Linked DNA regions of Homo sapiens. The protein of the gene in region 1 purifies or fractionates together with the protein of each later gene. This does not show direct contact. Each region holds a gene or a part of one and is shown on either strand. Other genes may lie near its edges.

Region 1 (3,654 bases):
CATCAAGTACCAACTTACACAGTTTCAAGTACCACCTCTCCCTCACACCATCTCTTGTAACATTTTACTTCAGCCTTTATTTGATCATTTCAATTGAATTACTACTGTTTCCCCAAATGAACCATGTCCTTAATGGCCCCTGTACCTTTACACATATCATTCCTTCTGCCTGGATGTCTCTTGATGGCTCCTCCCAAACTCTTTGCAATTTAGACATACCTTCCACTGAAAAGCCTTCCCTAGTCACTCCAAGACCCTATCCCATGACCATGTTCCAAGAATACCCATATTTAGTCTTTTCAGAGCCCTTAGCACACTGTAATGTAACTGTTTACTTTTCTATATCTCTTCCCCTAAACTATGAGCTCCTTAGGGACAGACACTACTACTTTTTATTTGTAGCACCTAGAACAATGCCTAGCACATAACAGGCATTCAATGAAATATTGCCACAGGATAAATGAATGAATGGATGGATGGATGAATGGATGAATATGGACAATGTAGAACTTTGAGGAGTCTAATCAAAACACCAAACTGGCCAGGCACGGTGGCTCATGCCTGTAATCCCAACACTTACAGGCCGAGGCGGGTGGATCACCTGAGGTCAGGCGTTCGAGACCAGCCTGGCCAACATGACAAAACCCTGTCTCTACTAAAAATATGAAAATAAAAAATATGAAAATTAGCTAGGCATGGTGGCACATGCCTGGTTCCAGGTACTTGGGAGGCTAAGGCAGGAGAATTGCTTGAACCTGGGAGGCAGTGGCTGCAGTGAGCCAAGATTGCGCCATCGCACTCCAGCCTGGGCGATGGGTGAGAATCTGTCTTTAAAAAAAAAAACAAAACTCCAAACTGTATTTAAAATCTAAAATGTAGCTAGCTGCTCCATTAGAGTAGCTACATAAGTAAGACTTATAATCTCTCAAATGCATATATTGGGAAAGAGGAAACAAAAAGAATATCACAAACATATTTTCTATTTTATAGTCTCACACTAGTTAAGATAAAGCCGAATGTTTACATCGAAAGGATTGATGGAAGGTGCTCAGCTATGAGCTAAGAAGGGATCACCAGAAGATCATTTGTGTGCATGCTTTTCTGACTCCTGGCAGGAGAGTGCTAGGCTACTTTTTGGGCTCTCACCAAGTCCTGCAGTTCTCTCAGTTGTTTTCCTGTCAGTCCCCCAATGCCCAGATCCTCCTCGTCCTCTTCTGGCTGGGCACTGACATTACCAGAAGATGGCCCCTGTTTGATAAAGAATTCTTCATGCTGGTCCAAGAGGAGTCCATGGAGCATCCAGGCTGAGAGCTGTTTATACATGACCCCATGACAAACGGCCAGGATTCTGGGCAGAGTAGAAAGTAAGAGGCTCAGAAGTCATGCTTTAAACTGTTACAGGATAAACAGAGGCCTGAGAATTTGATGAGTCATAACAGAAATAACCAATTAAGTTAAAAATAATTGTGCTATTTTAATTTAAATGTGGGTGAACTAACTCACTGAATTTCCATATTTGCAGCCTACACAATGAAATCTAAAATGTTCAGTATATGTGCTGATATTATTTTAGGGAAGACATTTTCTTCCCTTCTTTTATGTAATTTTCAAAACTGATGGGTCCTAAATATGTACAACTGTTTTATAGCAATAAAAAATAAAAATAATAAAAAATTTTAAAAATCGACTTAATGGAGTCTCTTTTTGGCTAACACAGTATTAAATTTGTTTTATTTTTGTTGGAATCACTTAGGGAGAGAATATTCAATACGTGAGTGCCAGGTATACATGAAAAACCATTATCTAGCAAAATTCAGAAACTAAAACAAAATGCAGAATGGTTGTTGGGGAATAGGATATTCAGATGGTCTCAAAGGATCACCCACCAGATAGCATATTAATTAAAAAGGGGAAAATGTACCTCTATAATGGAGCAGGACGTGATGAAAACACCTAAGCCAAGTGATCCAACTTCATAACATCCGTGATGGGATAAAGTTACTTTCTGTACCTTCTAATATGATGTAATGGGAAATAATATCACCTACATAGTATTCTTGCCAAAAAATGTTTAATCTGAATCTAATCATAGGGAAACAATAAATCCAGATTGTGAAACATTATACAGGACAGCTGGTCAGGACTCTTAAAATGTCAGCGTCATCCAAAACACCAAGAACAACAAAAGGCAAGGGGGACGGTTCTAAATTAAAGGAGACTAAAAAGACATGAGAACAAAATGTAGTATGTGAACACTGATCGGATCCTGGATTGCAAAAAAAGAACAGCTATGAAGGAATTCTGAGGGACAACTAGAAAAATTTGGATATAGTATTACTGAATTAATGTTAACTTTCTTGGGTGTAATATGGAATTGATGTTCTATAAGAGAATCCCTTTTTCTTTTATTTTTCTTTTTTTCTTTTTTCTTTTTTTTTTGAGACAGGGTCTCACTCTGTTGCCCAGGCTGGAGTGCTGTAGCACGATCATGGCTCACTGCAGTTTCGACCTCCTGGACTCAAGCCACCCTCCCACCTCAGCCTCCTAAGTAGCTGGGCCCACAGGCGCACACAGCATGCCTACTTTTTTTGTATTTGTAGAGACGGGGTCTCACTATGTTGCCTGGGCTGGTCTCCTAGGCTCAAGCTATCCACCCACCTTGGCCTCTCAAAGTGCTAGGAATACAGGTGTGTGCCACCATGCCCAGCCAAGAATGCCTTTTTTCTAAAGTGATACAAGCTGAAGTATTTAAGTGTTAGGGTATCTGTGACTACTTTCAAATGACTCTGCAAAAAAATTTGTGCATTTCACATATACGTATAGAAGGAGAAAAAGAGAAATCAAACGTGGCAAATGTTAACAAATGGTGAAACTAAAGGATACACTAGCGTTTGGTTGGTTTTTTTTGTTTTTTGTTTTGAGACAGGGTCTCATTCTGTCATCCAGGCTGGATTACAGTGGCGAGATCTCAGCTCACTGCAGCATCAACCTCCTGGGCTAAAGCAATCCTTCTGCCTCAGCTTCCCGTAGCTGGGACTACAGGCAGGCACCACACCTGGCTAATTTTTTTATTTTTGGTACAGACAGGGTCTCGCTATGTTGCCCAGGCTGGTCTCGAACTCCTGGGCTCAAGCGATCCCTCTGCCTCAGCCTTCCAAAGTGCTGGGATTACAAGCGTGAGCCACCGAGCCCAGCCTACAAGTGTTTTATTATACGTTTCTTTCAACTTTTTTGTAGGTTTAAAATTTTTCAAAATAAAAGGTTGGGAGAAAAAGAAATTACAAGAACTTGACTGTGTTATTTAACTGAATGGAATCTCTCTTTAAAAAGATCAAATGTGAAGCTATTTACATTTATGCATTTCTGAGTATGTGGTCTGTAAAGTTTGGTCCCTGCAAACACAGAACAAACATGTATATATAGTATCATCTACATTAGATTTTATATTCTATACACAAAAGTATAATAGAGAATTAAGTCCCTAAGGAATGTTCTGGAGGATTTACTCATGCAGTGGTTAGAGTGGAGATTAAGAGTTGTGAGTGGCCGGGTGCGGTGGCTCACACCTGTAATCTCAACACTTTGGGAGGCCAAGATGTGAATATCGGTTGAGCCTAGGAGTTCGAGACCAGCCTGGGCAACATAGCAAAGCCT
Region 2 (3,654 bases), on another chromosome or scaffold:
ACCAACAAAAGACAAAACTTTTCCACCATCCTTCCCCTCAGGAACTATACAACAGAAACAACAAACACAAGTGAAAAACCCTCTGAACTTAGCAGACCTAGATATGTTTTCCTCAGTTAATTGCAGCAGCGAGAAACCATTGTCTTTTTCAGCTGTGTTTAGCACATCAAAATCAGTTTCTACACCACAGTCAACAGGTTCTGCTGCTACTATGACAGCATTGGCAGCAACAAAAACTTCTAGTTTGGCTGATGATTTTGGAGAATTCAGCCTTTTTGGGGAATATTCTGGTCTAGCACCTGTTGGGGAGCAGGATGACTTTGCAGATTTTATGGCTTTCAGTAATAGCTCTATTTCATCTGAGCAAAAGCCGGATGACAAATATGATGCCCTTAAAGAGGAAGCCAGTCCTGTTCCTCTAACCAGCAACGTGGGCAGCACAGTGAAGGGTGGACAAAACTCGACTGCTGCGTCTACCAAGTACGATGTCTTCAGACAACTTTCTCTGGAAGGGTCTGGACTAGGTGTTGAAGACCTGAAAGATAACACTCCTTCAGGAAAAAGTGATGATGATTTTGCTGACTTCCACTCCAGTAAATTTTCTTCCATAAACTCGGACAAATCCCTGGGAGAGAAAGCAGTGGCTTTCAGACACACCAAAGAAGACTCTGCATCAGTGAAGTCCTTAGATCTCCCTTCCATTGGTGGCAGCAGTGTTGGCAAGGAGGACTCTGAAGATGCACTCTCTGTTCAGTTTGACATGAAATTGGCTGATGTGGGAGGAGATCTTAAGCATGTCATGTCTGATAGCTCTTTGGATTTACCAACAGTTAGTGGCCAGCATCCTCCTGCTGCAGGTGAGGAATTGGTGAGATTGCTCTGGTGATGGTGTTGTAGATTTCAAAGATGATTCTGCGGGTGTTGATTTACATGAGTAAGGCTCTGGCCCTTTAGCTTTATGAATCTCTAATAATCAACCTCTTTATTGCCAGTCTCCTTAAAGCAGTGTTAAATTTGATTCTATGGATACTTGATATGGATACTATGGCTACTGTGGAACTTAGATTGGGTAGCTAAGATATTTTTATTTTTGAAATCTAGCACCAGCTTGGTGTTAGAGGCACATAAAAAGTCACTGCTAAGTGAACCTCACATTGCCAGAAATTTGATAAAGACCTTTGCAGTGCCGGCAGTGTTCCTTCATTTCTGTGAGTAAAATCAGTGTTTCCCTCTCCTTTTTTCTTCTCTTGGGTATACACAGCAACTGCCAGTATAGTATTCTGTTTGATTTACAGAAATTAACTCTTGTTAGGTCAAGAAAGTAAAAATTTCTAACCACTTGTAGTGCAGTTTGCCACATCCTTTTAAGAGAAGAAGAGGGAAAGAGTTTATATATGAATGTTCTGTATGTCAGGGCCTGGCAAAGAGGAGGGTGTGTGTTGTCAGTGGAATCCAGGAGCTGTTTTCAGTGTTAACTCTATTACTGGAAATATTAAGTTGTAACAAATCTGTAGATGCTAGGATAGGGTAACTGCTAACTTTCTGATAAAATGTTTGAAAACATCTTATTAGGGAGCCCTCTTTAAATTCTGTGTAGATTTACATGTAGCAATTTACTCTCTAGTTCAACTTCTGTCATAAAAACTAGATTCCCAAGTGTCCTGGTTTTTCTTTTGTTTTGTTTTTTGATATGTATATAGAAAGATAAACCTATTTTGTGGCCTTTTAATAATGAGAAATATCTCAGTATCACTGTATTATTCTAGAAAATGTATTATGCATATGAAGGATTTGGTTTTGTCTAACTAGGGGGGACACGTGAGACACTTCCAAGTTTACAGATTCAGGCAGAAATTGTAAAGTCCTATAGCTTTTGCATATGTCAAATTGGCAAGTCGGAAAACAAAATTGCATCCATCCTTTGGTTATGGAAATGTTGTAGGTATTGCTAAACAGGCTGCTGAATCAGGAGCAAGTTAGCAGAGACATTGCATGTTTCATGTTGCTACTTGCTAAGGTATTTTTCAAATGCAGTGGGCGGTCTGAAGAGCTCCTGTGCCCTTGACTGTCTACTTTCTGTCTTTTTTTTTTTTTTTGTACTTTTCCTCAGAAATTTTCTTATTTTTTTGCTGCTGTTTGTTTGATAGAGTGATTGTGGGTTTTGTTTTGTTGGTTTTTTTTTTTTATGAGCTGCTTGAACCACAGCAGTTGGTTGCAAAGTGCTCTGTTTTCTGAACAATATTGGATTTTTATTTAAAAATCTCATAACATGTATACTAGCCTTTTGGACTCTGAAGTTATTAATTAGAAACTATTTTTCTGAAAGTGAATCTATATTCTTTCACAGTGCCAAGGTAGATGTCTTTATGAAATGAGGCTAATCCGGGTTTGGGGTGTCTTTTTTTTTCCCCCATTTTATTTGGAGGTTGGTTTTTTTGACCAAGCTTGTTCTTACTGACCTGTTAAAATAATCTTCTGTGCTCATGTTCTTTTATGTATGTTTGGAACATCCTCAGCTTGGAGCCTGTAATGTTCAAGCTAACTCTTCAGTTGGAGGATATTCTTAAAAGCAGATTGTTTCCTCCCATTGATCTGTAAACCTCCTGTCAGAAAGGAGCAGTATCCCTTTAGAGCGGTTGTTAAAAGGGGTTGATGTCTGACCAATGCGCTATATTGCTGTTGTGCAAAATTGCTGCATCAATGTATTGTAGAGGGTAAATGGCAAGGACTTATTCAAAGTAATGTAGTTTTATTTTATCCTCATGTTCACCACAGTATCTCTTGCTCTCTTAGTTTGAGGGTTAAAGGTACTTCTTGTTGGAGAAATAAGAAGTGAGCTGATGAAGAGAGAATAAAACCTGGTAGATTGCTATCTGCGGACCTTAATCCTGTTTAGAAGCCCTAACTTAACTCTGAAGGGGATACTGTCTCTTTTAACTCTTGCTATAATCATTTGTATGGAAGGTAGATAATACTGATAACATTGCCTGATTTCTCTGCGTATTATTACATTTAACCCTTTGAGGCCTTGCTGCATATAATTTCAACTAGGCTGTTTTTTCCCCCTGACTAAATTTAATCTGCGGCACTGAAGCATCTTGACGTGCAGTCATTAAAATCATATGGTTTTATTGGCAGCAAGAGCTGACCCTCATCTGTGACATTTTCAAAGGGTTAGCAAGACTTCTGTAGCTACCTACCTACCTATCTGTAAAGTAGCTCTTCTTTGACATTGAAAATCTTTGTATTTTAATTAGCACCTTTTTTTTTTTTTGGCTGCTTTTCTGATGTCTTTTTTTCAATTTAGACATTTTCTGTGTGAATGTGCCTTCAAATTTACTTTAGTATATTCCTCTGCAAATACTGATCTGCATGCTTATTCTGATGACTTCTTTTCCAGCTCTTCTGTATCACTCTCTTTTGTGATCTGTAAGTCTTGTGTTAATAAATAATTCTTTGGCATATTTTGAAAGTGTGGGGATGTGTGTAATTTGTACTTTTTCAGGGTTAGACCAAAGAAATACCTGGCTGATACCAAGTTTAAAGCAATAGTATCCTAAGACTAGAGGGTTTTCCCCTTTTGTTTTGTTTCGTCAAACACTTGTCTCCTGAGAAAGTATTGGTACATTTTAGCCTTTGTTTCTTATAATTCCA
Region 3 (3,654 bases), on another chromosome or scaffold:
AAATAAACCAATGTGAGTGAACTAAGTTTTTGGTTTCTTAGCTGCAATCTGGTCAAACTGACCCAAGCCTAGAAATTTAAAACTTTCCATTAGTTGTTAAGTGTGGTGCAGATAAACTTTATGTTGGTTGAAAATATATAAAACTCACCCTTGTAAAGCTTTATGAATTTGTCCGCACTTTTCCTTCAACACTGCAAAAATACCTAGATGAAAAAAATACGTTTGAGAGTCTATTTGAAACTTATGATAGTACTAACCTAAAAATATTTTTGAAGACCCAGATCAAGTTCATCAATTTAAAATGCTACAAATCCTTCTACATACTAACAGAGCCAAGAACCCATACTCCCCTGAAGGCCCAAGCTTTGTCTCTGGTGCGTGCTAACTGGCCCCTTCTCACCTCAGTATCCCACTTTCAACAAACCTGGAATGATGCTTTCAAGAACAATCAATGCCTCTTGTTCTCATCAAGATCCTAATCTGGCTAAGAATCAAAGGGTACAAATTTATTGCTTATTTCTTTATCCTAAACAATTTGGTAAAAAATCAACTATAGTAAAGTAATTTTTACAATCTTTTCTTGATATTTTCCTTTTTTATTCAAGGAAAATCCCAAAACTAAAGTATCTGATCAGAAGGTAGGCGTGCCAGGCCATCTGAGAAGCAAGCATATGAATGAGCACAGAGACACACATTTTCTGGTTCTCTGAATTAGTATCAGTGATGAAGATTCAGAAATACTGTACCGGGTAGGGCCTGCTGCTCCCTTTCCGTTTTAAGCTTTGCAAAGGTGGCACTGTCATAGCCAAAGGCCACATTTTAAATTCTTAGTAGACTTTTTATTTTTCCCACTGAGTAAGTTCTTTGCTGGTAAACCCGGCTTGGCCTCAGTACCAACTGATGATTCAAAGGCTAAAGGTGAAAACTCACAATATTTATAAAATTGCACAGATAAAAAAGCAGCATGCTTCAGCTGATTTCTCAAAAAACTATTAACCAAATAAAGACTGGCTTATTTACACCAATGGAACGTTTAGGCCCAGAACTGGCTGAGAGCCCCTCGTCCTCCCAGCATCTCCACCCACTATCTGAGCTAGCCTTGCTTTGGCTCTGGCTCTGGCCCCAAGCACAGGAGAAAAGCTCTGACCCCAAGTCCTTGGGGCAGGAATAGCTTCTTCACTGCCATTCTTCCTATGAATGCCATATAATGTAACTGCAAACCAGTTTTGTCTGGCAAATAATTTCTCCAGTAAGTAAATCAGTAACACAACTAACGTAACCTGAAATCTCTTTGATTCCTTGGGTTTTTAAAGGGTTATACCTGGATTCTCTTCCATGATGTTGAGGGCCTCAATTGCTGCAGCAGCTAACAGGGGAGGTAACGAAGCTGAAAAGCAGTATCCCTGGCCGGAAAGTCGCTGAGAAGAAACAAATGAAGACATATACACATTCTCTGTCCTTTCTAGGTAAACATTTGAAAGGCACCAGTTCTCTAGAACAACTACTGAACAGTGTGTACATGTGGTGAGGGGGGTAAGATCCAGCCATAAATAAACATTATACGTGTAACAGCAACAAGACTTTTTGTTAAATGTGAGATCATTTCTAAATAGAAATATTTTGAGTGATTCTTTAAAAATTGACATTTAAATAAAAATTGTGTGATAAACTAAGTAAAATTTCGTATTTCAAAATTATATTTTGAGGTGACCAATGGAGAAATTAGTTTCAGTTTTAGCTCCTGTTTTTAAAAAGAACCCACCTGATGGTCAATTACAAAAGACCTGCCACAGCAGAAACCTCCAATAGAAGCAAGTGCATTCTCCATGTTGGCACTGATAAGATCAATATCATCAATCTGCCGGAAAAGGAGGAGTGACAGTTATTCCACAGTTTAAAGAAAAAAAAGGCCAACTTCAAGCCTAGAGACAAAATTTAACAGCATTAAACTGTCTGTTAATATCTGGATTCAAACTACCTATCTACATGAAAATAAAAAATAAACCATATAACATCTATCGCTGAATGAACTGTAGTCTCATGGCCCATCTGAAACTGTCTCATTTTATACATTTTTACCATTTCATTATACATGACAAATTAACTCACAGCAAAGACAAATAAATTATAAGAAAATAAAACCCAAAGCTGTTCGATATTAAAAGTAGTCACAGGTACAAAATAAGACTATTTCCTCGCTAAAACAGTGGTCTAGCTGGCCTTCCTCATGGGATGCACTGAGATAAATAAAAAGTCTATCGAAGTTTTGAGCACTTTATTCTTGTATTCAGTTTGCCTCTCAGCATTTCATAAGTCAATTTATCCAAACGTCATGGCGATGGAATCTTTGACCAACTGGACAGCAGAAGAACCTAATGTGCTCTAAAATGACCTAATGGGCTTTGAGTCCTACATCTTTCTGACCACTCAGAACTCCTTCGGTCCTCATCTTTGGGTCCAGCCCTCAGCACCAAGTTCCATTCTGGGCACACAGTAGGCATTCAATCATTACTTACTGATGGCCATGTTAATGGATTGTCAGAACACAGCTAGTGTTTTCCTTAGTGTTTCATAGATCCAGCAGAGTTTTGAGAAACTCTGCACTCCTGCCCTTTTTAAAAAGCATGTTTAAACCTTTCATTATGAAAAATTTCAAGCCTGAACAAAGTAGAACAGAACAAAGAATCCCCATCACCCAGATTCAAACATTATCAACTCAAGGACAACCTTGCTTCACCTATATCCCCTACCACCCTCATCATTTCTTTGTAGTGAGTCCCAGACTTCATGGGGTTTCATCTATAAACATTGCACTGTGTATTTCTAAAAGATAAAAACTCTCTCAAAACATAATCACAAAACTAGTATCATACTTAAGACATTAACAATTTTTAAATGTTAAGTTTAAATTTGATGTTAAATATATTCAAATATTCAGTGTTCAGATATCTCTGATTGTCTCACCAAATTTTCTTTTAACAGCATTTGTTTGAATCAGGATCCAAATAAAGCCCGTACATTCTGCTCTCTACTCTCAGGCGCTTGTGAGTATTTCCTCACAGTATTTCCCAAAGTGACAACTGCTGGAAGCATTCACAAAACTACAACAGTGAAGTTCAAGTTTTTTCCTCCATAAAAATTTTCATGCCTTAAAAAAGGCTGTAGTGTACTGCTAAATCTGCTTGAATTACACTTCCATTTATCTTTCCATTTATTCCATTTACCTCCTCGGTGCATGTAACTGCTGAATGTCAGTCTGCCTTGGAGGAGGTGCTTCCATCCAACCTCCCGGGATATTCACTCTGCTTTACATTTTTCTCTGGGACTATATGGTTAGCGGGATGTCGATAATGTAAGGCAATTTTACGTTTTATAGTTCAACTCTGTAACACAGGTTGCACAGCTCTTATGCGCATGTTTTGGAGAAAAAGCTTTCTGTAACTCTTCCCATGGTGGTTGGTAAGACAGCTGTTCAAGACTGGCTGACTTCCTCTGCCCTGAGGCTCCAGGAGCAAAACCCACTAGGCACTGCGGGCAGTCTGGGTCCATTTCCCTCAGAAAAGGAAACATGACACCTCATTCTGTTTGGGACTTTAAGAGGTTTTGCTGAATGCATGCCAGTGGTGTTTCTGACACACACACACATGCACACAC

The links.
Region 2: the proteins of TUBGCP4 (region 1) and SYNRG purify together in Homo sapiens (affinity purification with mass spectrometry; one large-scale study listed by BioGRID and IntAct). This does not show direct contact.
Region 3: the proteins of TUBGCP4 (region 1) and SPTLC1 purify together in Homo sapiens (affinity purification with mass spectrometry; one large-scale study listed by BioGRID and IntAct). This does not show direct contact.

What each region holds. Positions count from the first base shown.
Region 1 is NC_000015.10:43,380,997-43,384,650, reverse strand, and holds part of TUBGCP4 (gamma-tubulin complex component 4), read right to left. Parts: intron 1,349-3,654; coding exon 1,147-1,348; intron 1-1,146. UniProt on the Homo sapiens protein: Component of the gamma-tubulin ring complex (gTuRC) which mediates microtubule nucleation.
Region 2 is NC_000017.11:37,550,318-37,553,971, reverse strand, and holds part of SYNRG (synergin gamma), read left to right. Parts: coding exon 1-857; intron 858-3,654. UniProt on the Homo sapiens protein: Plays a role in endocytosis and/or membrane trafficking at the trans-Golgi network (TGN). May act by linking the adapter protein complex AP-1 to other proteins. Component of clathrin-coated vesicles.
Region 3 is NC_000009.12:92,045,851-92,049,504, forward strand, and holds part of SPTLC1 (serine palmitoyltransferase 1), read right to left. Parts: intron 1,859-3,654; coding exon 1,763-1,858; intron 1,419-1,762; coding exon 1,322-1,418; intron 204-1,321; coding exon 149-203; intron 1-148. UniProt on the Homo sapiens protein: Component of the serine palmitoyltransferase multisubunit enzyme (SPT) that catalyzes the initial and rate-limiting step in sphingolipid biosynthesis by condensing L-serine and activated acyl-CoA (most commonly palmitoyl-CoA) to form long-chain bases.